Regions from separate parts of the Homo sapiens genome. Here region 2 is linked to region 1. A link means that fine-mapping ties the variant in region 1 to the expression of a gene that starts in the linked region. Tissue or cell type: NK cells. Region 1 holds a variant in brackets; the other region holds the start of a gene. All regions are shown on one strand. Distances are from middle to middle.

Region 1 (8,101 bases):
CTCTTCCTATACTTGGGTCACCAAACCTGATCACCACTATGTGCAAAGTGCAGTTTTAGTTTTCAAAGAAGTGACACTATACTTAAGAATACTTAAGAACGTTAACTGCGTTAACCTCCACGCACACAGCCATAGACAAATTCCCCCGTCAGACAGGAGCCCATTAGGAAATGCCCACCCCTCTCTGTAGCCTTTGTAAAATTAAGCTGATAAAAGACATCGCTGTTGTTGAGGTTTAAAATCAATGGATAACCAGGAAAGAATATAAGAAATCATATTAATTATTCTCCTGTTTACACTACACTTAAATCATTTAGCTGTCTTTTTTTTTTTTTTGGACCTTCTGCTGCAAAAGAGCCATTCTAATGAACTTGGACCCCAGGGTCCATGTGTGTGGTTATTCATTAAATCATGTCGCCTGCAGAGTCTCCTGACTTAAGACTTTCGCTGGGCTTGAACTCAGTAACCTGTCCTGATGTATTTCTCAGGCGTTTGTGATTAGGCAGCTGGGCTCTGCCTTACCTGTCAGGGTGATAACCCTTCTGGTTCTGACAAAAGGTTTCACTTTAAATTTAGCTTTCCATATTGAAGCATAAATAAAAAGATAATTTACTTCCCGATTTTGCTCGTTGTGGACACGGAGGTGTGTTTGACCTTCGTAAAGCTAGTAGGATCATGTTATCACTATGGGTTGGTCATTCAGCGCTTCCTAAAGAAAAACTCAAGTCAGAAACAAATCAGGAGCAATTATTGATTTAACAGTTTTGCAAATGCTTTTGTATGTAGAAGGTGCATGAAAAAGATTCCAGTGATACGCAGATCAAACACTGCGTCGATAATCACAGCTAATGTCGAGTGCTTGCTGCGTGCGTGTTGATCATTTAAGCCTCACATGCGAGCTGTGTGGTAAGCCCTCCTCCTGCCCTCGCCTTAGAGATGAGGAAACTGAGAGGCAGCGATGAAGCAGCTCACTAGCCCTGCTCCTGTCCTCCCCTTAGAGATGAGGAAACTGAGAGGCAGCGATGAAACAGCTCACTAGCCCTGCTCCTGTCCTCCCCTTAGAGATGAGGAAACTGAGAGGCAGCGATGAAGCAGCTCACTAGCTCTGCTCCTGCCCTCCCCTTAGAGATGAGGAAACTGAGAGGCAGAGATGAAGCAGCTCACTTAGATCACGGGATTAGGGGGCGGACCTGGACCCGACTCCGAGGCCCCCTCCAGCAGCCAGGCCCTCGCCCATCACGCTTGGTTGCTTGTAATGGGAGCCTTGCCTCTCGCCAGCAGTTTGTGGGGAGTAGGTTTCCCGTTTCCACTGTTATTTCCTGACTCCCGTGCCTCCCAACTTCCCACCCGCTGTGGCTGGCATTTCCACCGGCTCCCTGGCTTGTCCTACGCCTCATGCCTCCTATGTGGCTCTTCTTTCTCCTCCCGCCCCCCTGCTGCCCGTGGCCCCAGAATGGAGGCTTCCCAGGATGGCCCACACAGTGCCCTGCACAGGTGCTGTGGCTCAGCCCTGGCCATTCCCTCCACACGTTCTCTGCTCCAGCCACACTGAGCTCCAAGCCATCCTTTAGCTATGCCTGCTGCAGGCCACCTCTGTAGAGGGCCTTTCATGACCTGTTCTAGTAACCCCCCTGCCTGGTGTCAGCCACCCCCGCCCCTGGCCTGGTTTGCTATTGCCGGGCTGACCTCGCCCCGTCTTTCAGTTCTCCGTGTGGAGGGTGCTGATCCGTCCGTCTCCATCTGCTTGTGAAGCAATAACAGAACAGCATAGGCTGGGTAATCTATACAGCACGGAAATTTCTGTCCTCATGCTTCAGGAGGCTGGGAAGTCCAAGATCAAGGCACCAGCAGGTTCAGGTGTCTGGGGAGGGCTGCATCTTCTGGAAGGGAGAAGGAAACTGGAGGGCAAGCGAGAGAGCCCCTTACAGCAAGCCCCTTTATGCAGGCGCCTGATCCCATCGCAGGGGAGGAGCCCTCCTGGCCTCGTCACCTCTTAAAGCCCTGCTTCCTTAAGACTCTCACTCCACAACGCCTGAACTTTGGAGGGGACACGTTCGAGCCACAGCCCCTTCCTTCCTGAGGCTTCTCAAGATGCCCCCTCCTGTGCTTCCTGGAGCACCCGTCCTTCCTTGTCCTGGGACTTGGCACGCCTGACCATAGTCATACCTGCTTGTCCTCTTGGCCCCTCTTCAGGTAATGGGCTCCACACAGGTCACGATCTCGGCCAAAATAGTCACACATCGTCCCTGCACCCATCAGTGTGTAGTAAACAGGAAGTGCTTAATAAATGTTTGATGAATTAAGAGTGACTCAGTAATCCCAGTACAAAAAAGCAACAGCAGACGTTGGAGATGTGCTTGAGGCACGTGCCCAGCTTGTGAGCAGAGGCCGCCGCTGCCACTCCGTGCTCCCCGTGGACTGCCGTGCTGAGCGCTGTGAATGTGCTGGCTGTCCCGTCGTGCTCCAGCTCTTCAGGCCTCCCTGCTCAGCCTCTCTCAGCTTCAGTTGCCACGCACTTCTAGGAGAGGCCATCTTGACTTTCTCTTGCAGTCCCGGAGCCACACAGGGAGCAGGTGCGCAGTCACCTGGGTGAGGGCCCCTTCCTGGGTTTCAGAGGCAGCCCAGTTCATGCTCCCAGGGCAGCCCTTGTGCATGGGGAGCCGTAGCCTCAGGCAGGGGCACCCTGAGCCAACAGCACCTTGCAGGGCCAGCCACAGACATAATGGAAAACCTCATCCTTCAGCCGCAACTTTTCCTACCTCCCATCAAAAAAATGTCCCTCCTCTCTCAGTATGTGGGGACTGCGGTCTCCAGAGTGGCCATCCACAGTCACACTGGCTGTCAGTGGCTCCTGTCACCACCCTGCCACCTGGTGACTTGTGGGCCACACTCAGGAGTCATGGGAAGGAGACCCTTAGAGCAGCCCCAGGACAGGCCTCCTTGCGTGTACTTCTTTGATGAAGGCGGGTATAAGCCCTGGCAGCTCATTGTCCTCTCTTGAGTCCACATAGGTTGCATTTTTTAACTCTGGCAAAGTGAAGTTACAAAGTCAGTCTGGTGTCGCCTGGGACAGGTCCGAGAAATTAGTATAAAGATGGCTTCACTCCTGCGTCGTATTCCAGTTCACGTTTCCATTTCAGTGTATACATGTTACAGTCGTGATTGATCCTGTGCATAAATTGGGATGTGGGTTTTTGTTGGAGAAAAAAATGCACAAAAGTTCAGGAGCTAAGTAAGAGTGAAAGATTTTCATTGGACCAGGTGTGGTGGCTCACACCTGCAATCCCAGCACTTTGGGAGGCCAAGATGGGCGGATCACTTGAGTCTAGGAGTTCGAGACCAGCCTGGCCAACACAGTGAGACCCCCATCTCA[A/G]AAAAGAAAGAAAGAAATAGTTGGACATAGTGGCGGACGTTTGTAGTCCCAGCTACTCAGGAGGCTGAGGCTATAGGAGGTGGGGGCTGTAGGGAGCCATGGTTGCACCACTGCGCTCCAGCCTGGGCAACAGAGCAAGACCCTATCTCTAAAGGAAAAACAAAACAAAACAAAACAAAACAAAACATGAAGAGTTTCTTGGGGCCAGTTGGCATCTAAAAATATCTAAGTCTTTTGATTCTCAGCTATGACCTGGCTACGTTCTAGGCTGTCTTTACGTGTTTCTAGGACTCTTGGCAAATTCTCAGAACAGTTGACTTAAAAAGATTAGCCACGTAGTATTTTTACAAGGAGAGAGGGAGGTGAAGTGATGAGATGGGGCCATACTTATAAAATGATTCGGGATTATTGATGAAGTAGTCCCTAGGTTTCTGATTAATTAATTTTAAAGCGCTGACCAAATATGTACCCAGCGTAAGAAGCCAGAGTCGATCAGTGTTGTAGACACGTCGCCTCTCGATGGCATCTTTCCATGCCACACCCTTCACGACCTGAAGCTGGAGCTTAAACCCTTCAAGAAGGGTCCCTGCGACCGGGTGCAGTGGCTCACACCTGTCATCTTTGGGAGGCCAAGGTGGGCAGATCACTAGGAGTTCTAGGCCAGTCTGGCCGACATGGAGAAACCCTGTCTCTACTAAAAATACAAAAATTAGCCAGGCGTGGTGGTGGACACCTGCCTGCTCACAGGCTGAGTCAGGAGAATTGCTTGAACCCAGGAGGTGGAGGCTGCAGTGAGCTGAGATCGCACCATTGCACTCCATCCTGGGTGAGAGAGTGAGACTCCATCTCAATTAAAAAAAAAAAAAAGAAGGGACCCTGCTTTGTTCATGATTTTATTCTCGGTGTGTGGCATACACTAGGCCTGAAATAAATGTTATTTAAATGTTAAATTACATTGTCCCTCCTTCCGATACATTTGCCATCTGGTTAAATTCCAGTGAAGTCAAAGGATGGATTTCTTTAAATAAAGTTTGCTTCTTTTTCAAAAATTCCTTGGGCTCTTTCTAGAAAAGCTGCTCCTTTGCCATCTTCCCAGCAGATTCCCGGGGCAGGATCCACCCACCTGTTCACAGCTCCTTCCAGCGCAGTGTGGGTCCGGCTGTTAGCTCAGCCTCAAAGGAGAATTGTAAAGATACAGGTCAAGTGTCCTTTTGACCACCTTTTTTTTTTTTTTCTATATGCGGGATTTTGTGAGACAATAAAATGCATGTGGACCTCAGCTTAACAAAAGCTGAATGTTCCTGGGGTGAGTGTTTGAATCCAACAGGAAATAGATGCTCAACAGCTCTGAGTCTGGGGAGGTTTTAATGGCCTCTTGGTCCCTGGTAGGGTCTTGTTTTTCGGGGTAGTTTTGCAGCCTCTGACACAGGTAAGATGGTCAGTACCGGAAGCTGCCATGACGTCTAGACTGACCGTTAGGAAGGTACTCACTGGACTGGTATTCACAGATGGAAATAAACCAAAGCAGTGTCTAGGGTCAACCAATCTGCTTTGCTGCCTTCACGGGGAGGTCCTGGGACCCTTTCATGGAGGAACTTTTTAATGCTTATTTTAACCCTGAAGGTAAAACATGAAACATGCAGCCATTACTCCAAGAAAACGTAACGTGGGTGAGTGGTGTGTCTCGGGGGCCCACGGTCTCCCTGAGGCCGCATCTCTCTGGAGAGATCGTGGACGTCCGTCGTAAACTATGACCTATTCACATTTTCACTTTACTCTCAACTTTCCAGGAGTGAGTCCTCTCCAGAGAGCAAGACGGAGCTGCGTTTCAACAGACGGTGCTTTCAATCTGTGCTGACTGTAACTTTTATCCATCATAGGTTTGAAGACATACCTGATATCGGGTCAGAGAGCCAAGGAGTCTCGCTGCAGCTGTGCAGAGGCCTTGCTTTCTGGCTTTGAGGTCATTGACGGCTCACAGGTGTCCTCAGGCCCTAGGGGACAGGGGACAGCGTCATCAGGGAATGTCAGTGACTTGGCGCAGACTGTCAAAACCTTTGATAACCTTAAGGTTAGTTTTTTTGTTTTTTTTTTCCTACTTCTAAAACTTTCTATTAATTCTGCAGTAGAGCACGTGAAATAATAAGCAGCCTCCAGGTCTGAGGCAAACAACTTGGAATGACCTTCGATTTGGTTTTCACGATTTTAATATTTAGTCTAAAGTTAGTAGCATTCTGCATTTTTAACATCCTTGCTTTTTGACATATGACGCACCTCCATTGCCTTTCCATTGCACAAGGATGCTTCTCATTTGAATTATTAGTTATTTTCTCTTCCTGGGACCTGTGGTGCCTTTTGGGATTTCTAGAAGCTGGTGATAAATGACAGTAAAGGTGGCTTTCCTTGGCACCTTGGGTGGAGAGCTAGTTGATAATCTGATTTCAGAGACCACTTTCTCAAATACTTCTACGTCTCTTGAAATCCACTATTTTATGATTACTTGAAATGATGTTGGTGTGGGTGAATCCTAGGACACAGCTCACTGAGAGGACAGGCTGCCGAGAACATTGTAGTATTTCATTATTGGAACCGGGATCTCCTGGTAGCTGCCTAGAAGTGCCCGTTTCTGGACTGACCTGTCATCATAAACTACCAGGGAATTGGCGCGGTCGACCTTGGGTGTGTGAAATCATTTCAGTTTATGAGCTGTTCCTTTGCTTTCACATTTGATTTAGTTTCCCCACTGGTACCTTCTGTTTATTTTTATAGTTTAAACATCTACTGTCTCCATTCTTAAAATGAGACAGAGAATCAAAACAGCTCTCCTATGCTGCTTTGTGTTCTCAGATAACACAGTGGGGTATGTGTGAGGATGGCGGCCAGTGGTTACAGCTTCACCCAATACGTCCCTGCCTCTCCACATTCATTCACAGGTTTGAAAGCCGCTATTGGTATTTACGAGGAACAGTCTTCATTATGTGGCAGTCAGCTGGGGTATGCAGATTACTTACTGGGTCAGAATACATAGTGCCTGTCGCCCAGTTACACGTAATGATTGCACTCGGGTTCTGTCAACTCCGCTCGTGGATCGCGGTCGTTGGGTGCTTTGTTAGTGTAATGCAGGGCTTCTCACCTTGGCACCGCTGGCATTTTGGACCAGGTAGTCATGTGTTGTGGGGCTGTCCTGTGCACTGTCAGATGGCTGGCAGCATCCCTAGCCGCCACCTGCCAGATGGCAGCATACCCACCCGTACCCTACTCCCCAGCTGTGCCAACCAAAAATGTCTCCAGACATGGCCCAGTGTCCCCTGGGGGTGCAGAGTCACCCCTGGGTGAAAACCACCGGGACAGTGGTGTTGGACCCTCTCTTCCCTGTACTCTTGGCACATGTGTAAAGCTCATGTATCTGAGATTCCCTGGATGCCTGCAAACTTTAGAGACAGCCGCCTTGCCTGGGCTGACGTTGTGCAGGAGTCAGAAAATGGAGCTCTGGGCTCCTAGACAGCGGACCCGGGCAGGGAGGGGCTGGCGTGGGGTGGAATCGGGAATGGTTTTGCTATTTGGGGAAGAATTGTTTCCTCCAGCCTGCAAACTGAGCTGTATTTAAGTCGTGAAAGACAGCCCCGAGCCAAAAATATATAATTCGTTGTGTTTGCCATTTTAGCTTCCACATATGTGTGTTTCTGTCCGTTAGGGGATGCGGTCGCAGAGTTCACCATATCACATGCTCACGGGTTTAGTGACCACGGTTTTAGCAATGGCGATTCTACACTACATTGCACTCTAGTCATATATATTTGTTTTGGTCGGAATGAGCAAAAACCATTTAGCGTATCTTCTTGGCATGTGGAGATTTTCCAAATATTGTTGAAAGTTTCTGAGAATCTTGTGATCTATCAAGTTGACAGAAGGCCGGGCATGGTGGCTCACGCCTGTAATCCTGGTGCTGTGGGCGGCCGAGGTGGGAGGGATGCCTGAGGCTAGGATTTCCAGACCAGCCTGGTCATCGTAGCAAGACATCATCTCTACAAAAAAATTTTAAAAATTAACTGGGCTTGGTGGCCTGTGCCTGCGGTCCCAGCTACTTGGGAGGCTGAGCCAAGAGGATCACTTGAGCCCAGGAATTTAGGCTGCATGAGCTATGATTTTGCCACTGCACTCCAGCTTAGGCCACAGAGTGAGACCTTGTCCTGTCTCCAAAAAAAGGGAGGAGGGTGCTCAGTGGTAAAGTAAATTCGGGAAGCTTGGGATATTCAACACAGAAAGGGTTTCTTTACTGCAGGACTTCTCGGAGCCTTCACTAGGCTAGTAGACAGTAGCTAGGCCTTCAGAGGAGGACGCGGTATATACAGCATTCTCAGGCCTCTTTGAGCACAATTGTTTTTTTTCAAGCTGCACCTTGCAGGGCTAATGTGGTCACACCTTTTGGGGGAATGCTCATGTAGTAAAAGGAGTTTCATGCCAAGGACCAATACATTAGAGAAAAGGTGTTCAGGAAACGTTCCCTGAAGGAGCATGCGTAGATTTTCACGTGTGTCCTGTTCCTGCTGCTGCTCACTTGAGATACTCATGGCTTCTCTTTCCCCTGAACTCCTGTCTGCATTCACCGTTCAGCTCCACCACGCCTTCCCGTGCCTCCGCAGCTGATAACGCTGTTCCCTCGTCTCCAAATTCTCAGTCCCTTCAGTCTGTCCCACTTGGCTGTAACATACACGATCTTAAATCTTT
Region 2 (8,101 bases), 110 kb before region 1:
TGAAGTCAGGAGTTTGAGACCAGCCTGGCCAACATGGTGAAACCTTGTCTCTACTAAAAATACAAAAATTAGCTGGGTGTGTGGGCGCATGCCTATATTCCCAGCTACTTGGAGACTGAGGCAGGAGAATTTCTTGAAACCTTTTTTTTTTTTTTTTTTTGAGGTGGAGTCTCTGTCGCCCAGGCTGGAGTGCAGTGGCGAGATCTCGGCTCATTGCAAGCTCCGCCTCCTGGTTGAACCCATTAAAAAAAAATAAAAATATATTAATATAACTCCCATATGCAGTCATTCAATGAATTTGTATTGGCCTCTAAACTGGGCATGGCTGGATGTAGAATCTATGGATGTGGCTAGATGGAATACACCTGGTTATGGAGGCACCTGCAGGTATTTTGGTGATCTTCTCCAAAGGATCTTTTGCTTTGCTGAGACGCCTGATCTTCCTGTCAATGTGAAGGTAGCTGCTGGAGGCTTGTGAACAGCAGTCAATGGTAGAGAAAAAATGTGGGTAAAGGCCAAGCGTGTGGCTCACATCTATAATCCCAGCACTTTGGGAGGCCGAGGCAGGAGGATCACTTGAGGTCAGGAGTTCAAGACCAGCCTGGCCAACATGGTGAAACCCTGCCTCTACTAAAAATACAAAAATTAGCTGGGTGTGGTGGCATATGCTCATAGTCTCAGCTACTTGGGAGGCTGAGGCAGGACAATTGCCTGAACCTGGGAAATGGAAGTTGCAGTGAGCTGAGATCATGCTACTACACTCTAGCCTGGGTGACAGAGTGAGACTCCATCTCAAAAAAAAAAAAAAAAAAAAAAAAAAAAAAGCAGGTACGTTCCTACAAACTCACCCTCATCAGTTGAAAGAGAAAAAGACTCAAAGCTTGTAACTGCAGTTTTGGACGCATGATCAGGCCATAGCAGGGAATCCCATCTTCCAGCAGATGGTTCTCCAAGATTGTGGTCCACCTGACAAATGAAATCACGTAGGCACTGCCGAGTCCTCAGGGGCCGGTGTGATGAGAATGGCTACAACTCAATCATTATGCAACTTATCTCAAAGCCTGTCATGGTTGCCACCCAGTCTGACCTCTGATATCCTGGAGCCAAGGTCCTCACCCATCATGTGAATTTGCATGTGAGGGAGGGTGAGGAGGAGACACTGAGGCAGGCAAGGCATTCTGCAAGCTTTTGCAGAGTTTTCATGGACACATTCTGATTCCCACTGTGTCCAGGTGGGAGTTCTGTACACATCACAGATGGAAAAAAGAAACTCTCTGTGGATTTGGCAGCACCCTGGATTGGATGTTTGAAGAAAGCTATTGCATCTGCCCCGTATCTTCTGTGAATCGGGTACCTTTATGCTTCTGGGAGGTCAAGAAGAACCCAGAACCCTCCAGTGACTTCCCTTTGGGTCTTGGCATTATGAGAAGATGGTTAACCTCCTTTATAGAACTCTCCTTCACATCCAATCCTTCAGAAAGCCTAATTGATCCCATCTTCTTAACCCAACCCCTCCCCTGGACATCGTTCCTAAGCCCCTTAAAGAAACAGATGGCGGCTGGGCACGGTGGCTCACGCCTGTAATCCCAGCACTTTTGGGAGGCCAAGGCATGTGAATCATGAGGTCAGGAGTTCGAGACCAGCCTGGCCAATATGGTGAAACCCTGTCTCTACTAAAAATACAAAAATCAGCTGGGCATGGTGGTAATCCCAGCTCCACTGGAGGCTGAGGTAGGAGAATTGCTTGAACCCCGGGAGGCAAAGGTTGCAGTGATCCGAGATCGCACCATTGCACTCTAGTCTGGGTGACAAAGCGAGACTCCGTCTCAAAAAAAAAAAAAAAGAAAAGAAAAGAAAAGATATGGATGGCATATCCTTGTACCTCCAGGGCCTGACACACAGTGCTGGCACCACAGCCCCAGTCCCCCGGGGTTGATGGCATGATTCACTCCCTGACCTGGAGACTGGGGAGGCTTGTCAGCTTATAGGTTTCCACAGCAGGCAATGTGGCCGAATTGCTTCCAGAGAAGTAGGGAGGTGAGTATGACCATTACTTGTGTCTAAAAATCCGACGTGACTAACTTACAAACACATAAGTTACCACAAATGATTTAGGGAGGAGGAAAGAAGTGCAGACAGGCAAGCTTTCAGATCGTTTCAGGAAACCAGGAAGCAGGGAGCACAGCGTTGCAGCCAGCAAGGGAAGACGGAAGCTGTGAGTCCTGGCTCTGAGGGCCTCCCATCCAGTTGGGCTGATGGATGAGACAGGTACAGTCTGTGCTGGGCCATCGTGAGGCTTGCAGAGGGTAGTGCCAGGGTCACACAAGGCGTCATGGCCTCAGAATTCTGAGACCTGGTTTTCCATCTGAACTCATCACCCTTAGTGGGAGACCTAGGGTGCGTTTCTCTTCAATCCTGGGTTTCACCTCTCTAAACAAGGGACAATAGTATCTACCTCAGAGGGTTGTGGCAATGACCAAATGTGTCACAGGTGAAAATGTCCAGTAGTTTCTGGCATTTATGACGTGTTCGGTCAATGTTAGTTCACTATTGTTATCCCATTTACTAAGCGAATGCATGTGACACACCATGCGTTTCTGAACCTCGTATGTGAGAGTGCCTGGCATAGAATTGATGTTCATTAAAGGTTTATTTTTTAAATTTTTAGATAAACTTATTTTGAAATAGTTTTAGACTTGAAGAGTTGCAGAAATACTAGCGAGTTTCCCTGTATCCTACATCCAGCTTCCCCTAATTTTTTTTCCCCCAAGATGGAGTCCTGCTCTGTTGCCCAGGCTGGAGTGCAGTGGCATGATCTCGGTTCACTGCAAACTCCGTCTCCTGGATTCAAGTGATTCTTGTGCCTCAGCCTCCTGAGTAGCTGGGATTACAGGCGCACACCACCATGCCCAACTAATTTCTGTATTTTTAGTAGAGACGGGGGTTTCACCATGCTGGCCAGGCTGGTCTTGAACTCCTAACCTCAGGTGGTCTGTCTGCCTCAGCCTCCCAAAGTGCTGGGATTACAGGTGTGAGCCACTGCACAGGGCCCAGCTTCCCCTAAAAATGTTAACGTCTTACCTAACCATAGTAAGAGGATCAGAACCAGGAAATTGCAGATCTTATGTGAATTTTGCCCGCTCTCCTGCTACTGTCCTTTCCTGTTCCATGTTCCCAACCAGCATCCCATGTTCCATTTAGTTGTTGTATCTATCCCCTTAGGGACGATTCCTAGATTGTGACAGTTTCTCAGTCTTTGTCTTTCAAGACCCAAAGTGTCCAAGGACACTTTTGATGGGTACTGGTTAATCACTTTGTAGAACAGGTCTCAATCTGGGTTTGTCTGGTGTTTTCTTGCGATTGGATTGAGATTACACACTTCTGCAGGAATACCACCACAATATGTTGCTTTTAGTTTTTTCCTCCTTTATTGTGGTAAAATACACTCAACATAACATTTACCATTTAAACCACTTTATTTTATTTTATTATTATTTTTTGAGATGGAGTTTCACTCTTGTTGCCCAGGCTGGAGTGTAATGGTGCGAACTCAGCTCACCACAACCTCCGCCTCCCGGGTTCAAGCAATTCTCCTGCCTCGGCCTCTCGAGTAGCTGGGATTACAGGCATGTGCCACCACGTCCGGCTAATTTTTGTATTTTTAGTAGAGATGGGGTTTCTCCGTGTTGGTCAGGCTGGTCTCGAACTCCCGACCTCAGGTGATCCGCCCACCTCGGCCTCCCAAAGTGCTGGGATTACAGGCGTGAGCCACCGCTCCCGGCCTAAACCACTTTAAAGTGTATGATTCAAGGGCAGTATGTAGATTCATCCTGTTGGATCATTTCTAGACTTTTTCATCATCCTAAAACGAAACCCCAAGCTGCTTATCTTCCTCCCCTAGCACCTGGCAACCTCCAATCTGTGTCGCCTCTACGGATTTGCCAATTCGAGACATTTCATCTGGATGGAATCATACGCTATGTGGCCTTTTTTGTTTGGCTTCTTTCACTAGCATAACGTTTCCCGGGTTCCTCCACACTGCAGCATGCATCGGTGCTCCATTCCTTTTTGTAGCCGAATAATATTCCATTGCATGGACAGATCACATTTTACTTTTATTTTCTAATTCAACAGTGAGACCTGGTGTGGGCCCCGGCGCTGGGCCTGGGAGGCGAGGGAGGGGATGGAAGAGAGCCCCGTGACTGGCAGGAGGCACTGTGGAGTGTGGGGAGAAGGGGTCGGGATCTGCATGCTAGAGAGAATAGGATTTTATTTACACGTGGCAATGTTTATGGAGGCCAATGCACAACTGCCATTATGGGACGCGGACTCCTTTGAAAGTCTCATTTGTGTAAAAGGAAAAGCAGTAGTTCATGAGGAGGGGGAGAAGGGCTCAAGGACAGCAAGGTAAACTACCCCTGGGGCGGGGGAACGTGGTCGTCGGTGGGCCCAGCTTTGGAGGCTAGGCCCGTGAAGGTCGCCCCGTGAGCAGGTCCAGGGCAGGCCGAGTGCCCCGGGGCCCGCATTCATTGCTTACAGAGCAAGGGGAGCCTCCCGGGAGGGAAATCCAACGGTTGGAAACTTCGATTTATCCCAAAGGCGTGCCGAGTGGGAAGGCAACATTTTGATTTCCCAAACGTTGCGGCCAGCGGCTTCTTCCACGGCAGGCGCCTTCAGGTCTCTCCGCAGGGTCGGGACCCCGGGCGGCGCGCGGCCTCTGGGACGCCGAGGGAGGGCGGGCCCACAGCGCCCGGAGCGCGGACAGCGGCCACAGCCCGCCGCCTAGAAGCGGCGCCGCCCGGGGCGGGGGGCGGAGCCGAGCGCGCGCCCCGCCCCGCCCCGCCCCGCCCCGCAGCCCCAGCCCAGCGCGCGCACCAAGGCGGGGCGGCGCGCGGCCCGTGCGCGTGTCCGGGGCCAGGAGGCGGTGGCGGCGAGCGCGGGCCGCGCGTGCGCGCTGCGGCTGGGCGAGGGGCGGCGCGGGCGCGCGTCTGTCAGTGACAGCGGGCGGGGCAGGGGCCGGAGATGGTGGCGGCGGCAGCTCTTCCGACATGAGGCAGCGGCCGCGGGGGACACGGCGGCGGGCGCGGCGGCGGCCGCATCTCTAGCTCGGGGAGGCGGCCCCCGGCGTGGGCGCGGGCGGGCGGGCGTCCCGGCCGGCGTCGCGGGAGCCCGGCTCTGCGGCAGCGTCTGCACCGCCGCCCGGCGAGGGGCCCGCGTCCGTGGTTCCACGCGCTCGGTCCCGGGACAGCTGCGGCCGCGGCGGGAGCGGCGGCGCACTCGGGGGGAAGCAGGCCCCACTAGACGGGCCGCGCCGACGGGCTCCGCGCACTCGCAGCCCGGGGCGCCCCCACCCCCAGCGCCCGCCGCCGCGGGCAGGGCCGGCCCGGAGCGCGGGGGGCGGCCGGGGAGCGCGAGCCGGGGGCGCCCGCCGAAGCTCGCTGCTCCGGGTCGGGGTCCGGGCCCGGGGCCGGCCGCGCGCCGCCTTTGACGCATCGGAGCGCGGCTCCTGCAGGATGGAGGGCTCCGCGCCGCCAGCGGAGTTGTTTGTGCGCAGGCGGCTCGCGGGGCTGGGAGCGCTCAAGGTCTGAACTTCCCTCCGGAGCCGCAGCTGGAGGAGGCGAGCGCGCGAGGAGGAGAAGCCGCGCGGCGCGGAGGCCACCCTCGGGGCGAGAGGCGCGGAAGGCGAGCGAGCAAAGCGGTCCCGGAGCCACGGCGGCCACGCGGCGGGGACCCCCGGGCGTTCTAGGTCCGTCCCGAGCGGTTCTCGTGCGCCTCGAAGGTGGGGGCGGTGGGGGCGGTGGGAGCACCGCTGAGCCGGGAACCACAGGAACAGATGGTGCCTGTCCAGGTCGCGTGCTGGAGCCGCCCCTTAGGACAGGAGCAGGTCCCGGGCCTCTAGGCGTGCATGCCTAGGTGGGAGCGCCGCTAACTCTCCCCGTTTTGCTGGCAGGTACTGGTGACCCCGGCCGGGGCAGGCCCCGGGACTCGACAACATGGCTTCCCCACCCCACCAGCAGCTGCTGCATCACCACAGCACCGAGGTGAGCTGCGACTCCAGCGGGGACAGCAACAGCGTGCGCGTCAAGATCAACCCCAAGCAGCTGTCCTCCAACAGCCACCCCAAGCACTGCAAATACAGCATCTCCTCTAGCTGCAGCAGCTCTGGGGACTCCGGGGGCGTCCCCCGGCGAGTGGGCGGCGGAGGCCGGCTGCGCAGGCAGAAGAAGCTGCCCCAGCTGTTCGAGAGGGCCTCCAGCCGCTGGTGGGACCCCAAGTTCGACTCGGTGAACCTGGAGGAGGCCTGCCTGGAGCGCTGCTTCCCGCAGACCCAGCGCCGGTTCCGGTATGCGCTCTTCTACATCGGCTTCGCCTGCCTTCTGTGGAGCATCTATTTTGCGGTCCACATGAGATCCAGACTGATCGTCATGGTCGCCCCCGCGCTGTGCTTCCTCCTGGTGTGTGTGGGCTTCTTTCTGTTTACCTTCACCAAGCTGTACGCCCGGCATTACGCGTGGACCTCGCTGGCTCTCACCCTGCTGGTGTTCGCCCTGACCCTGGCTGCGCAGTTCCAGGTCTTGACGCCTGTCTCAGGACGCGGCGACAGCTCCAACCTTACGGCCACAGCCCGGCCCACAGATACTTGCTTATCTCAAGTGGGGAGCTTCTCCATGTGCATCGAAGTGCTCTTTTTGCTCTATACCGTCATGCACTTACCTTTGTACCTGAGTTTGTGTCTGGGGGTGGCCTACTCTGTCCTTTTCGAGACCTTTGGCTACCATTTCCGGGATGAAGCCTGCTTCCCCTCGCCCGGAGCCGGGGCCCTGCACTGGGAGCTGCTGAGCAGGGGGCTGCTCCACGGCTGCATCCACGCCATCGGGGTCCACCTGTTCGTCATGTCCCAGGTGAGGTCCAGGAGCACCTTCCTCAAGGTGGGGCAATCCATTATGCACGGGAAGGACCTGGAAGTGGAAAAAGCCCTCAAAGAGAGGATGATTCATTCCGTGATGCCAAGAATCATAGCCGATGACTTAATGAAGCAGGGAGATGAGGAGAGTGAGAATTCTGTCAAGAGGCATGCCACCTCGAGCCCCAAGAACAGGAAGAAAAAGTCTTCCATCCAAAAAGCTCCTATAGCCTTCCGCCCTTTTAAGATGCAGCAGATCGAAGAAGTCAGTATTTTATTTGCAGATATCGTGGGCTTCACCAAGATGAGTGCCAACAAGTCTGCCCACGCCCTGGTGGGTCTCCTGAACGATCTGTTCGGTCGCTTCGACCGCCTGTGTGAGGAGACCAAGTGTGAGAAAATCAGCACCCTGGGAGACTGTTACTACTGCGTGGCGGGCTGTCCCGAGCCCCGGGCCGACCATGCCTACTGCTGCATCGAGATGGGCCTGGGCATGATCAAGGCCATCGAGCAGTTCTGCCAGGAGAAGAAGGAGATGGTGAACATGAGAGTCGGGGTGCACACGGGCACCGTCCTTTGCGGCATCCTGGGCATGAGGAGGTTTAAATTTGACGTGTGGTCCAACGATGTGAACCTGGCCAATCTCATGGAGCAGCTGGGAGTGGCCGGCAAAGTTCACATTTCTGAGGCCACCGCAAAATACTTAGATGACCGGTACGAAATGGAAGATGGGAAAGTTATTGAACGGCTGGGCCAGAGCGTGGTTGCTGACCAGTTGAAAGGTATGTGCACTGCTTTACCTCGGCATCCCCCCTCCCTGATCCTGATTGTATTAAATTAAAAAAAAAAGCTTCCAGCCTCAGTGTCTGCAGACAGCTCAGGTATCTCAGAATGCCTTACCATGGGGGGATCTCAGGGTCAGTGTGACTTTTCTTTCAGCGGGTCAAATATCACAGATCTGTTCACACTGCAGAAAGGGACGCTGTGCAGAGATGACCTAGACGCGACCTTTAGAAGGAAGGAGAACTTTGAACGTGCATAACCACTGGTTGGCTGAAATGTGGGGGCACGTCCGGTGAATGTAAGGGTATGGAGCCCTTCAGCATTCAGCACTGTTTAGCACTTAAGGAAATTGCCTTTGCATTCATTTGGTCACCCTGAAGTCCCATCCAAATGTTTCTCTCTGCCCTTTTTGCG

Evidence for each region. PIP is the estimated chance that this variant, and not a neighbour inherited with it, causes the effect.
Region 2: ADCY9 starts here. The variant in region 1 is fine-mapped to the expression of ADCY9 in NK cells (Gilchrist 2021, PIP 0.93).

Annotation. Positions count from the first base shown.
Region 1 is chr16:4,004,711-4,012,811 of GRCh38, reverse strand. It overlaps ADCY9 (adenylate cyclase 9), which reads left to right. Exons shown (of 11, transcript NM_001116.4): 3 at 5,254-5,444. Among named protein-coding and RNA genes, the nearest start is that of TRIDDENT, 58 kb to the right of the region's middle. RefSeq lists enhancers at 424-1,068, 1,069-1,714. The variant A/G (reference allele first, on the strand shown) is at 3,374.
Region 2 is chr16:4,113,335-4,121,435 of GRCh38, reverse strand. It overlaps ADCY9 (adenylate cyclase 9), which reads left to right and starts at 4,994. Exons shown (of 11, transcript NM_001116.4): 1 at 4,994-5,746; 2 at 5,951-7,686. The coding sequence starts at 5,994. RefSeq lists silencers at 4,787-4,856, 7,850-8,060.